Homo sapiens: one gene and its partners. The protein of the gene in region 3 interacts with the protein of the main gene of each other region in a pairwise test. Each region holds a gene or a part of one and is shown on either strand. Other genes may lie near its edges.

Region 1 (3,500 bases), on a different chromosome or scaffold from region 3:
TGTCAATGAGTGTGACATTCCAGGACACTGCCAGCATGGTGGCACCTGCCTCAACCTGCCTGGTTCCTACCAGTGCCAGTGCCTTCAGGGCTTCACAGGCCAGTACTGTGACAGCCTGTATGTGCCCTGTGCACCCTCGCCTTGTGTCAATGGAGGCACCTGTCGGCAGACTGGTGACTTCACTTTTGAGTGCAACTGCCTTCCAGGTAAGGAGCTCCCTAGTGTCCCAGGATTAGGGGACAAACCCCTAGCACAGGAGGTAGTGGGTGTGGCTCAATTGCTTTTTTTAGGAAGCGCAAGGAAAAAGGGAAGTGAGAATTTTGTGTGGGGTGGGTTGCTAGTGAGGGAGGAGTTTTATGGGCCCACTGTGGTCCATAAACTGAGCAGGGGATAATTTAGCATGTCAGGGTTTATGATGATGAGTGGCTAGAAAATTGTTTATTGTCCCTTTTGTAGAAACAGTGAGAAGAGGAACAGAGCTCTGGGAAAGAGACAGGGAAGTCTGGAATGGAAAAGAACACGATGAGAATTAGACACTGGAAAATATGTATGTGTGGTTAATAAAGTGCTTTAAACTGAATTGACATTAACAGTAGGTGATCAACTTTACTATGTGCTTGTGCTTTTGCTTTTGATGGAGTAATTCATTGTTTTCTTATCCACCTAAATGCACCCAGCTGCCCTTGATTTTCTCTGGGCTACTGGCCTTCACAACCCTCTCCCATGTACCCTCTCTGACTTTGGGGTAACCCTCCCCTAACTTAAAGCTAGAGAATTCTGAAACTGAGGAGGGGATCCTCTGTTAATCAGTGAGCACTTTTTGATGAGCTGATAGATGATATATGAGAGACTATGCGTGGCACAATACTTTGTTACACTCTTCACTGATACAAGTGTTCTAGAGTGCACACACAACCCAAAGATAGAAATAAAAAGAGGAGCAGTGTCGGGGAGCTTGGGGCCTGGTGTTCCATGGAGAGGGAGAAAGGAACAAGCTTGGCCAATTCATTCAACTCCTTATAAAAATGATGAGGAGGCTGAAAACCAAGAATTTTGATTGGGAACAGAATACAAGCAGCTGAAGCAGATGAATTACTAAGCAACAAAGATCCTGTTTTTATACAAATATCCTTAGTACAAAAACAAAAGAAGGAAAACTGTAGGGGGGAGTAATGTGCTAAGTAAGCAGAATTGCCTCCAAAAGAAGTTGTTCTAGTTACTCTTTCAGAGTGGGAATCTTAGATTCTGGTATTGTGGATATGGTTCACATATAATGGGATTGTGTGTTTTATTTTGGAGGAATTAAAGGTCATAGTTTGGTCCTCAGTATAAAATCAACTGGTAATTTGTTCATTTCATTTGGTAAAAATGTATTGACTGCCTGCTATGTTCTAGGCACCATGCTGTGTATTTGGAATACAGCTATACAAAGCATTGTCACATAATTGAAATGAAAATTTTATATTATTTAAGTCACAAGAACAAGCTATTTAATTATATTACTTTTAGTTTCTCTTTTAATAAAGAATAGATAATGCTATCATTCTAGATACTAAATAAGTATTTTCTTAACATAATATTACTATCCACTTTATCTTGTAGAAGAAATAACTAAAATACATCTGTCTTCACTCCTGTATTTGTTTGCATTTTAAGGATTAAAGACAGAAATAGAAATGTAAACAACTTTATTTTGAAAATATTTCAACACTGCAAATATCTCTGGGTCTGATATTCTAGTAATCTAATTGGCTAGTAATTGATGTTAGTGTGATTTATTGTTGAAGGCTAAATGTGTTTTTCAGTTTCAAGAAAATTGCTTTTAATAATTGCCTAGAACAAGAGGTTGATTTGGCAGCAAGATGTTGACGGGAAGTTAGAGAAGTCAATAAAGGAAGTTTTTAGCTGAGAGAGAGTGATTATTCACTCCCATAGCCTCTGCATTGTTATCCATTAGCCACGATAAGAACCTTAGGGAATTCTGAGAGTGTGTCCAGGAAAGGATCTGTCAAACTAGAATAGTATCTCCTCCTTGAGAAAGGAAATAACCAAGGATTCCGCAGCTGAGAGGCTGCCAGGGCTAGTGAAATAGAGTAAGGAAATCTTGGCTGTCTCTTATTCTCTGGTTGTAGTTTAACGCAAGACACTTATTTACTCACTGATGGTGTGTGTGTGTGTGGGAGGGGAGATTAGCATGAGGGGTGGGAATGGGGAGATTTGATGAAGAGAAAACTAACATTTTTTTGGTGACTCAGGAACTGTGCCAGGTACTTCCATGCTTATTAGCTCAATTACACAAAAATCTTGGGACCAGGTATTATTTTTCAAGTCTTCCCACATGAAGTAACTGAAGTTTGGAGATGTTAAGTGATTCACCCAAAGTTGTACAGCTAATATGTGGTTAGGCTGGGTCCTGAAACCGAGGCAGTTTATTTTCAAAGCCTTTGCTTTGTGCATCTTACTGCGCCACATTGCACTGCACATCTGCTTCCTGAAAGCACTTTGTAGGTGTGTAAAACTTTTCGTTAAATGCTTTAAGCTGTTTGGGTTAAAAATATATGTTCATGTTATAAGAAAACCAAGACACTCCTAATTATAATCAAATAGTACTTGTTACATATCAATATGTGTGTGTGTGTGTGTGTGTGTGTGTGTGGTATATATATATATATCGCATTGTGCAGATGTTTAAAAGTAGTTACATAGACTAGTTCTTGCTTTTCAGGGTCCCATAATCTAAACCAGATGACTTCAGCTTTGGATAAATATATAGAAGGAAATTTAAAGAGAATTCAAAACAATAGATGATGCAGTGACACTGTGAATAAATGTTATTTATACAGTTTGTAAGATTTCATGCTCATTGTTCGTATGTCCCAGGTGGAGTTCAGAAAATATTCAGTTCATTTCCACAAAGGGAAATAGTGCCTAGAGATGGTTTTCTTTTAAAAAGTCCTTTTCATAATGCAGTGCCCTTCCTTCCATTGCCCTTCATTCCATTGCTTCCCATGCTTGTCAAGAGACTAAAATGTTACTTATAGTAATAGTCACTATCTCAATGTAAATAGCACCCTTATTTGATGAGAATTATTATTTCAGTTCTAAAAATGGGGAAACAAAGTCAGCAGGAGGCAAAGTAGCTTGTTAAAGTATTCTGCAACTTTCAAATGGTTGCTTCCACTGCATTTCACGTCTTGGCACTTCTAATTGAGGGTTACTCTAACCACCCTATTTAAAATTGTAACTGTCCCCCACCCCCTTAATTACTAACCCTGGTCTACTTTTTGTTTTCTTTTTCTGTAACTCTTATCTTCTTACTATATAATTTATACTATATAATTTACTTCATTATGTCTATTGTTTATTGTCTGTCTTTTCCAAATTCTACTGCCTCTTACCCTCTCCAGAATGAAAACTAGTATCTTTGTTTTTGTTTACTGATGTAACCCAAACACCTACAAACAGTGCCCAGTATATACTAGGCCCGCAAATATATATTG
Region 2 (3,500 bases), on a different chromosome or scaffold from region 3:
GGTGGATAAGAAAACAATGAATTACTCCATCAAAAGCAAAAGCACAAGCACATAGTAAAGTTGATCACCCACTGTTAATGTCAATTCAGTTTAAAGCACTTTATTAACCACACATACATATTTTCCAGTGTCTAATTCTCATCGTGTTCTTTTCCATTCCAGACTTCCCTGTCTCTTTCCCAGAGCTCTGTTCCTCTTCTCACTGTTTCTACAAAAGGGACAATAAACAATTTTCTAGCCACTCATCATCATAAACCCTGACATGCTAAATTATCCCCTGCTCAGTTTATGGACCACAGTGGGCCCATAAAACTCCTCCCTCACTAGCAACCCACCCCACACAAAATTCTCACTTCCCTTTTTCCTTGCGCTTCCTAAAAAAAGCAATTGAGCCACACCCACTACCTCCTGTGCTAGGGGTTTGTCCCCTAATCCTGGGACACTAGGGAGCTCCTTACCTGGAAGGCAGTTGCACTCAAAAGTGAAGTCACCAGTCTGCCGACAGGTGCCTCCATTGACACAAGGCGAGGGTGCACAGGGCACATACAGGCTGTCACAGTACTGGCCTGTGAAGCCCTGAAGGCACTGGCACTGGTAGGAACCAGGCAGGTTGAGGCAGGTGCCACCATGCTGGCAGTGTCCTGGAATGTCACACTCATTGACATCAGTCTCACACTTCTGCCCTGTGAAGCCTGTGAGGCATTTGCAGGAGAACTGGTTGGCCACAGTGGTACAGGTACTTCCATTTGCACAGGGATGAGACAGGCAGGCATCGGTCCATTGGCACTCCTTACCTAAAGGAAGGATAACAAAACTCAGTACTGGCCACAGAAATAGGAGATGGCCCCATCCTCAATACCTCATTGACATCAGCGAGCTCTTGCGTGGAGAAGACCTCAACTCTTTGCATTTTACAAAAGGCTAAATCAGAGCCTCCTCAAGGTCATCTGACACAGAGCCCTCTCCAGTAACTCTCCAAGGACCTCAGCAGAGACACAAGGACTCAGTGGGTGGAGCACCTGGAGGCAATTGTAGGTTAGTCACATTGAAGCCCAATCCTGCAGGACGCTATCAGCAATAGGAGTCTGGATCCATCTACTCTCTCAGAGCTCACTGTCTTTGCATATGCTGCTCCTGTTTGAATATCAACTTCCGGGCCAGGAGCAGTGGCTCACACCTGTAATTCCAGCACTTTGGAAGGCCGAGGCAGGCAGATCATGAGGTAAGGAGTTCAAGACCAGCCCGGCCAATATGGTGAAACCCTGTCTCTACTAAAAATACAAAAATTAGCTGGGCATGGTGGCGCGCACCTGTAATCCCAGCTACTTGGAAGGCTGAGGCAGAAGAATCACTTGAACCCAGGAGGCGGAGGTTGCAGTGAGCCGAGATTGTACCACTGCACTCCAGCCTGGGCGACACAGCAAGACTCCATTTCAAAAAAAAAAAAAAATCAACTTCCCTTCTGTTTTCCTAGTGAACTCTCCCTATCTTGGCAACTCTACTCAAAAGTTCCAACCTCTGTAAAGTCATCCTTAGTGCCCCTCACATACATACATGTGCGCAAAGACAGATACACCAAGTTTGCTATTTTCTTCTATTATACCACCTGCCACACTGGCAGGGTTGGGTCTCCGTGGTATGCTCTCAAATCATGTCTGTTGAATGGATAAAATATATCGATATTTTCCACAAAATATAGTTACTAAATAGACCTCTGGTGATAGAAACAAGTCAATACTACTTCTGTTTCCTCTAAATGTAACACACACATATATTCTGGGAAACATTTTATTAATTGTGGCCTTGCTATAAATATCTGTTGATGTGTTTGAAAATGATGAAGGACCTCTGGGTCCCTATATAACAAATGAAATAGAAGCCATCAGGAGGACAGAGGTCTCGAAGGTATTCCGTGGACTTTCTCAAGTAGGAAAGTACCAGCACTAGCAGGAAGACTCTGACGGGTTGAAAACTAAATCATGATGCCAGGGGAAGCAAAGCAGATTCTTTGAGGCAGAAAGAGAAAGAGAAAAAAATATCCTCACAGAACTAGTAAATTTGGTATTCACATGGCTGGCTTTTTGTTGTCATTAGTCTAAGTCGCTTATTATTTAAACTACAGAGATAAGAACTCCTTGAATTTTTATTATTATTATTATTATACTTTAAGTTCTAGGGTACACGTGCACAACATGCAGGTTTGTTACATATGTATATATGTGCCATGTTGGTGTGCTGCACCCATTAACTCGTCATTTACATTAGGTACATCTCCTAATGCTATCCCTCCCCCGTCCCACCACCCCACGACAGGCCCCGGTTTGTGATGTTCCCCTTCCTGTGTCCAAGTGTTCTCATTGTTCAATTCCCACCTATGAGTGAGAACATGCGGTGTTTAGTTTTTTGTCCTTGCAATAGTTTGCTGAGAATGATGGTTTCCAGCTTCATCCATGTCCCTACAAAGGACATGAACTCATCCTTTTTTATGGCTGAATAGTATTCCATGGTGTATATGTGCCACATTTTCTTAATCCAGTCTATCATTGATGGACATTTGGGTTGGTTCCAAGTCTTTGCTATTGTGAATAGTGCCGCAATAAACATACGTGTGCATGTGTCTTTATAGCAGCACGATTTATAATTCTTTGGGTATATACCCAGTAATGGGATGGCGAGAACTCCTTGAATTTGTTAATACTCCAGTTGATTGTCTAGGAAAGTATCTAAATCTCTGACCTCATAGAAAGGTAAATGGGAGACACAAGAGTTTTTCTATAAGGGAAAAAGATGCGAGATGTGACATATGAGCACAGAAAAGTGCTCTCTGCCTATCAAGGAATGTCAAATCAAAGGAGAAAACTATAACACAAATTTAGGCACAGCATATACATCTCAGGGAGCTAAGACAGAAAATGAAGGAACTGCAATTCTTCTTGTCTTTCCACTCATGTCACTAAGAGGCACTTATTTACAGTGGAGAAGAGATATAAATGCTCACTTCTAGCAAGTGTGATTTTCAGAGTGATGCCCACAACTGAAACAGAAAGATCCCCGGGCCGGAAGTGGTGGCTGATGCCTGTAATCCCAGCACTTTGGGAGGCTGAGGTGGGCAGATCACTTGTGGTTAGGAGTTTGAGACCAGCCTGGCCAACACGGTGAAACGCCATCTTTTCTAAAAATACAAAAATTAGCCGGGCTTCATAGCGCATGCCTGTAATCCCAGCTACCTGGGAGGCTGAGGCACAAGAATCACTCGAACCCAAGAGGTGGAGGTTGCAGTGAGCCGAGACTGCGCCACTGTACTAAGCAACAGAGTGAGAAGAAAGAAAGACAGAAAGAGAGAGGGAAAGAGAGAGGAAGAGAGAAAGAGAGAGAAAGAAAGAAAGAAAGAAAGAAAGAAAGAAAGAAAGAAAGAAAGAAAGAAAGAGAAAGAAAGAAAGAAAGGAAGGGAGAAAGAAAGAAAGAATCAACCCTGAATTTGGTTTCCATATATATTATGT
Region 3 (3,500 bases):
TGGCCCAGGCTGGTCTCCAACACTTGAGCGATCCTCCCGCCTCAGCCTCCCAAAGTGCTGGCATCATGGGTGTCAGTCTCCTGGCCCTGATATCTTTTAATTCTAGTCCAAAGCCACAGAGTTTCTCTTTGCTTCTCCACATCATGTCTGCAAAGAGAAGCTTGGCTCCCAGCAACATCAGCGTGAGTTACCCATGCTCAGTCCCCTATTACTAAGAAAATAGTTTCAGAATTGCTATACCCAGTTCCACTACAAAAAGGGCATCTGCTAAGTACAGTTTGCGATGTGTTTGTAGTTTTTTTAGTTTTTATTTTTATTTATTTTAATTTAATTTAATTGTATTTTTTGAGACGGAGTCTCACTCTGTCACCTAGGCTGGAGTGCAGTGGCGCGATCTCAGTTCACTGCAACCTCTGCCTCCCAGTTGCAAGCAAGTCTCCTGCCTCAGCGTCCCGAGTAGCTGGGATTACAGGCGCCTGCCACCACACCTGGCTGAGTTTTGTATTTTTAGTAGAGGTGGGGTTCCAGCACGTTGGCCAGACTGGTCTCGAACTCCTGACTTCAGGTGATCCACCTGCCTCGATCTCCCAGAGTGCCGGATTACAGGCATCAGCCACCACGCCCGGCCTCTTTTTGTTTTTTAAACGTAGAGCACAGTACTCAAAAGTTACTTCTATGATTTCTTGTTTATTTTCTACGGAGTTGGCTGTGCTGTTCATTTGGACAGGTTTGCTTTACCTGCTTCTGTTGGCATTCAGTTTTAGGGACTTGCCCATCCTTGTTGATGAATTTTTTGAATATAGAAATCATTAACATGATGCCAGAAGTCAGAACTCTATCCAAGAAGTGTACACAGAGAGGTATTATCTTTAATAAGCCATTCCGGGCCCAGTGCAGTGGCTCACGCTTATAATCCCAGCACTTTGGGAGGCCAAGACGGGCAGTTCGCCTGAGGTCAGGAGTTTAAAACCATCCTGGCCAACATGGCGAAACTCTATCTGTACTGAAAATACAAAAACTAGCCGGGCATGGAGGTGCACGCATGTAATCCCAGCTACTCAGGAGGCTGAGGCAGGGGAATCGCCTGAACCTGGGAGGCGGAGGTTGCGGTGACCTGAGATTGTACCACGGTACTCCAGCCTGGGTGACAGAGTGAGGCTCCATCTCAATCAGTCAGTCGATCAAATTAAGTTTTAAAAAGCCATTCCATGTCAGCCAGGCTAAGTCCTGAGAATTGTCCGCTCTGGTCCTCGCGTCTCTGGGAACATGTGGCAGTGAGGATGGACGTTCCTTGCCAAGTGGCTCTGTTCGGCATAGTAACGTCTTTGTCCTCTTTTTAGCTGCAGAAGCAGAACCACAGACTATGACTTGGTCGGAGGCGATCAGCTCAACTGTCACTTCGGCTCCATCCTGCACACCACAGGGCTGCAGTACAGGGACTTCATCCACGTCAGCTTCCATGACAAGGTGTGGACGCTGCAGACAGCGGCTCTTCACTTCTTTTGGGTCCTGGAGCTGTTAGAGATTCTGATGGAAGTTATGAATTATTCTTCCCGTAATTCATAGACACACAAACACACTTCTAAGTCCTGTGTACTATTTCAGAGGGGCCACAGACTCTGGGGGAGCCACACAGATGCCCTGGTGCAGGTTCAGAACCCAGGTTTCACATAAGATAGAGACGTCTTCATCAGAGATAGCGCGCTGTGTTTCTTACCTCGCCCTTCTGTTGAGGAGTGAAATCCCTCAGTATTAATGCCGCATGGCCTTCTGGGATTCGTATCGTCGTCCTGGGTTGTGAGTGCCATCAGTAGTGTAGTGTAGCAGGTCTGGCACTCTGGGGGGGTCACTGTCACCTTGGGAGAAGCTGCAAAAGCCAGCTGTGGGCCGGGCACAGTGGCTCACGCCTGTAATCCCAGCACTTTGAGAGGCCGAGGCGGGTGGATCATAAGGTCAGGAGTTCGAGACCAGCCTGGCCAATATGGTGAAACCCCATCTCTACTAAAAATACAAAAATTAGCTGGGCGTGGTGGCAGGCGCCTGTAGTCTCTGCTGGTCGGGAGGCTGAGGCATGAGAATCACTTGAATCCGGGAGGCGGAGGTTACAGTGAGTTGAGATTGCGCCATTGCACTCCAGCCTAGGTGACAGAGCAAGATGCCATCTCAAAAAAAAAAGCCAGCTGTGCATGGCTGCAGTGCTGCGTGTTCAGTGTCGCTCGCTGTCTCTCCAGGTGATTCTCATAGGCACCGCAGCGGGAGGCCTGCTGGCGCAGATCGGCGGCTCTCCCACTTTGCTGCCCAGTAGAACCTCTTGAGGAGCTTTTAACACTGCTGAGGTCCAGGCCGCACCCTGGGCCAGTTCAATCCGAATCTCTGGGGAGGTCAGAGAGAGGCTAAGAAAACAAAGATCCTTTTTCATGTAGAGCAGCATGGTTTATGAAGGCCAGTCCCTGCCAGAGTGGGTCCCACTGTGTAGTGAGCGTGAGTGGAGAGGCGGTGTCCCCTCCTCTCTGTGCCGCAGGACTTGGGCTGTCATTGCAGACACTGCAGGGCTCCGACTTTGCGTGCTGGTGCGTGTGTTCACTGTTTAGGCCCCATGCTTGTTTCTTGCTCCTGCAGGTTTACGAGCTGCCGTTTTTAGTGGCTCTGGATCACAGGAAAGAGTCTGTTGTGGTCGCTGTGAGGGGGACCATGTCTCTGCAGGTAACGTTGGAACCTGACTTTCCAGCCCTGGGAGTGGGTGCGGGAGCGGGAGCCCACAGCTGCTCGGCTGGGGAAATCCGTCAGTAACCGCATGAGACACAGGGGAAAATGGTGAGGACAGAAAATGAGGATGTGAGCCTGGGGTTGGGAAATACTCCCTTTGCAAAAAGGGATGAAGCTGTTTCATCTTCACTGAGAACTGTCAGCAGCAGAGCGGCCAGCAGGTTGGCCCCCCCGCCACAGGAGCTCCCAGAGGGCACCTGCTTGACCCCTCCCTGCCTAACTTCCCTGAGCCCAGCCAGGCCCCACACCCGGGAGCCCTCCCGGGGAATTTCTGCACCAGAGCCAGATGGCGGCAGTGAGTCAGTCTTGCTGCAGAGAGTCACGCCCCTGGCCACCAGCCCCGCTGGAGGCTCCCGGTTTGGATCCTCACAGGCCCTCGTGGCCTGCCGTTCTCCAGGTGAGGTCAGGACTGCCGACATCCATCCCCAGCCCATGGCCCCTCTTCTGTCTTCCTCAGTCCATACTCCTGGGCCCCTTGGAGATGCCAGGTGACGCTTTCCTTGTCAAAGCTTTCTTCTCTCCATTCCGGTTTCCTCCTGGCCACTCCTCAGTCTCACTTCCCGTTCTTCTCTGCTGACCCAGAAAATGAGTTGAGACTCCAGAGCCTGTGTGCTCAGCCCTCTTCTGCTCCTGACTGGCTCTGGGGTAGCCCCCCTAAGTCCAGGGCCAGGACCCCAAACTTGCATCTTCAGGAGCCATCTGTGGGTCTCCCGGGAGGCACCAGAGAAGCCACA

Evidence for each region. The genes of interacting proteins can lie anywhere in the genome.
Region 1: the proteins of DAGLB (region 3) and NOTCH2NLC interact in binary tests that used the Homo sapiens proteins (3 or more experiments, as listed by UniProt).
Region 2: the proteins of DAGLB (region 3) and NOTCH2NLA interact in a two-hybrid assay, tested with the Homo sapiens proteins (one large-scale study listed by BioGRID).

The regions. Positions count from the first base shown.
Region 1 is NC_000001.11:149,463,621-149,467,120, forward strand, and holds part of NOTCH2NLC (notch homolog 2 N-terminal-like protein C), read left to right. Parts: coding exon 1-206; intron 207-456; coding exon 457-533; 3' UTR 534-3,500. UniProt on the Homo sapiens protein: Human-specific protein that promotes neural progenitor proliferation and evolutionary expansion of the brain neocortex by regulating the Notch signaling pathway.
Region 2 is NC_000001.11:146,156,022-146,159,521, forward strand, and holds part of NOTCH2NLA (notch homolog 2 N-terminal-like protein A), read right to left. Parts: intron 795-3,500; coding exon 459-794; coding exon of another isoform or gene 271-458; exon of another isoform or gene 209-270; coding exon 132-208; 3' UTR 1-131.
Region 3 is NC_000007.14:6,423,955-6,427,454, reverse strand, and holds part of DAGLB (diacylglycerol lipase-beta), read left to right. Parts: intron 1-1,340; coding exon 1,341-1,467; intron 1,468-2,619; coding exon 2,620-2,703; intron 2,704-3,500.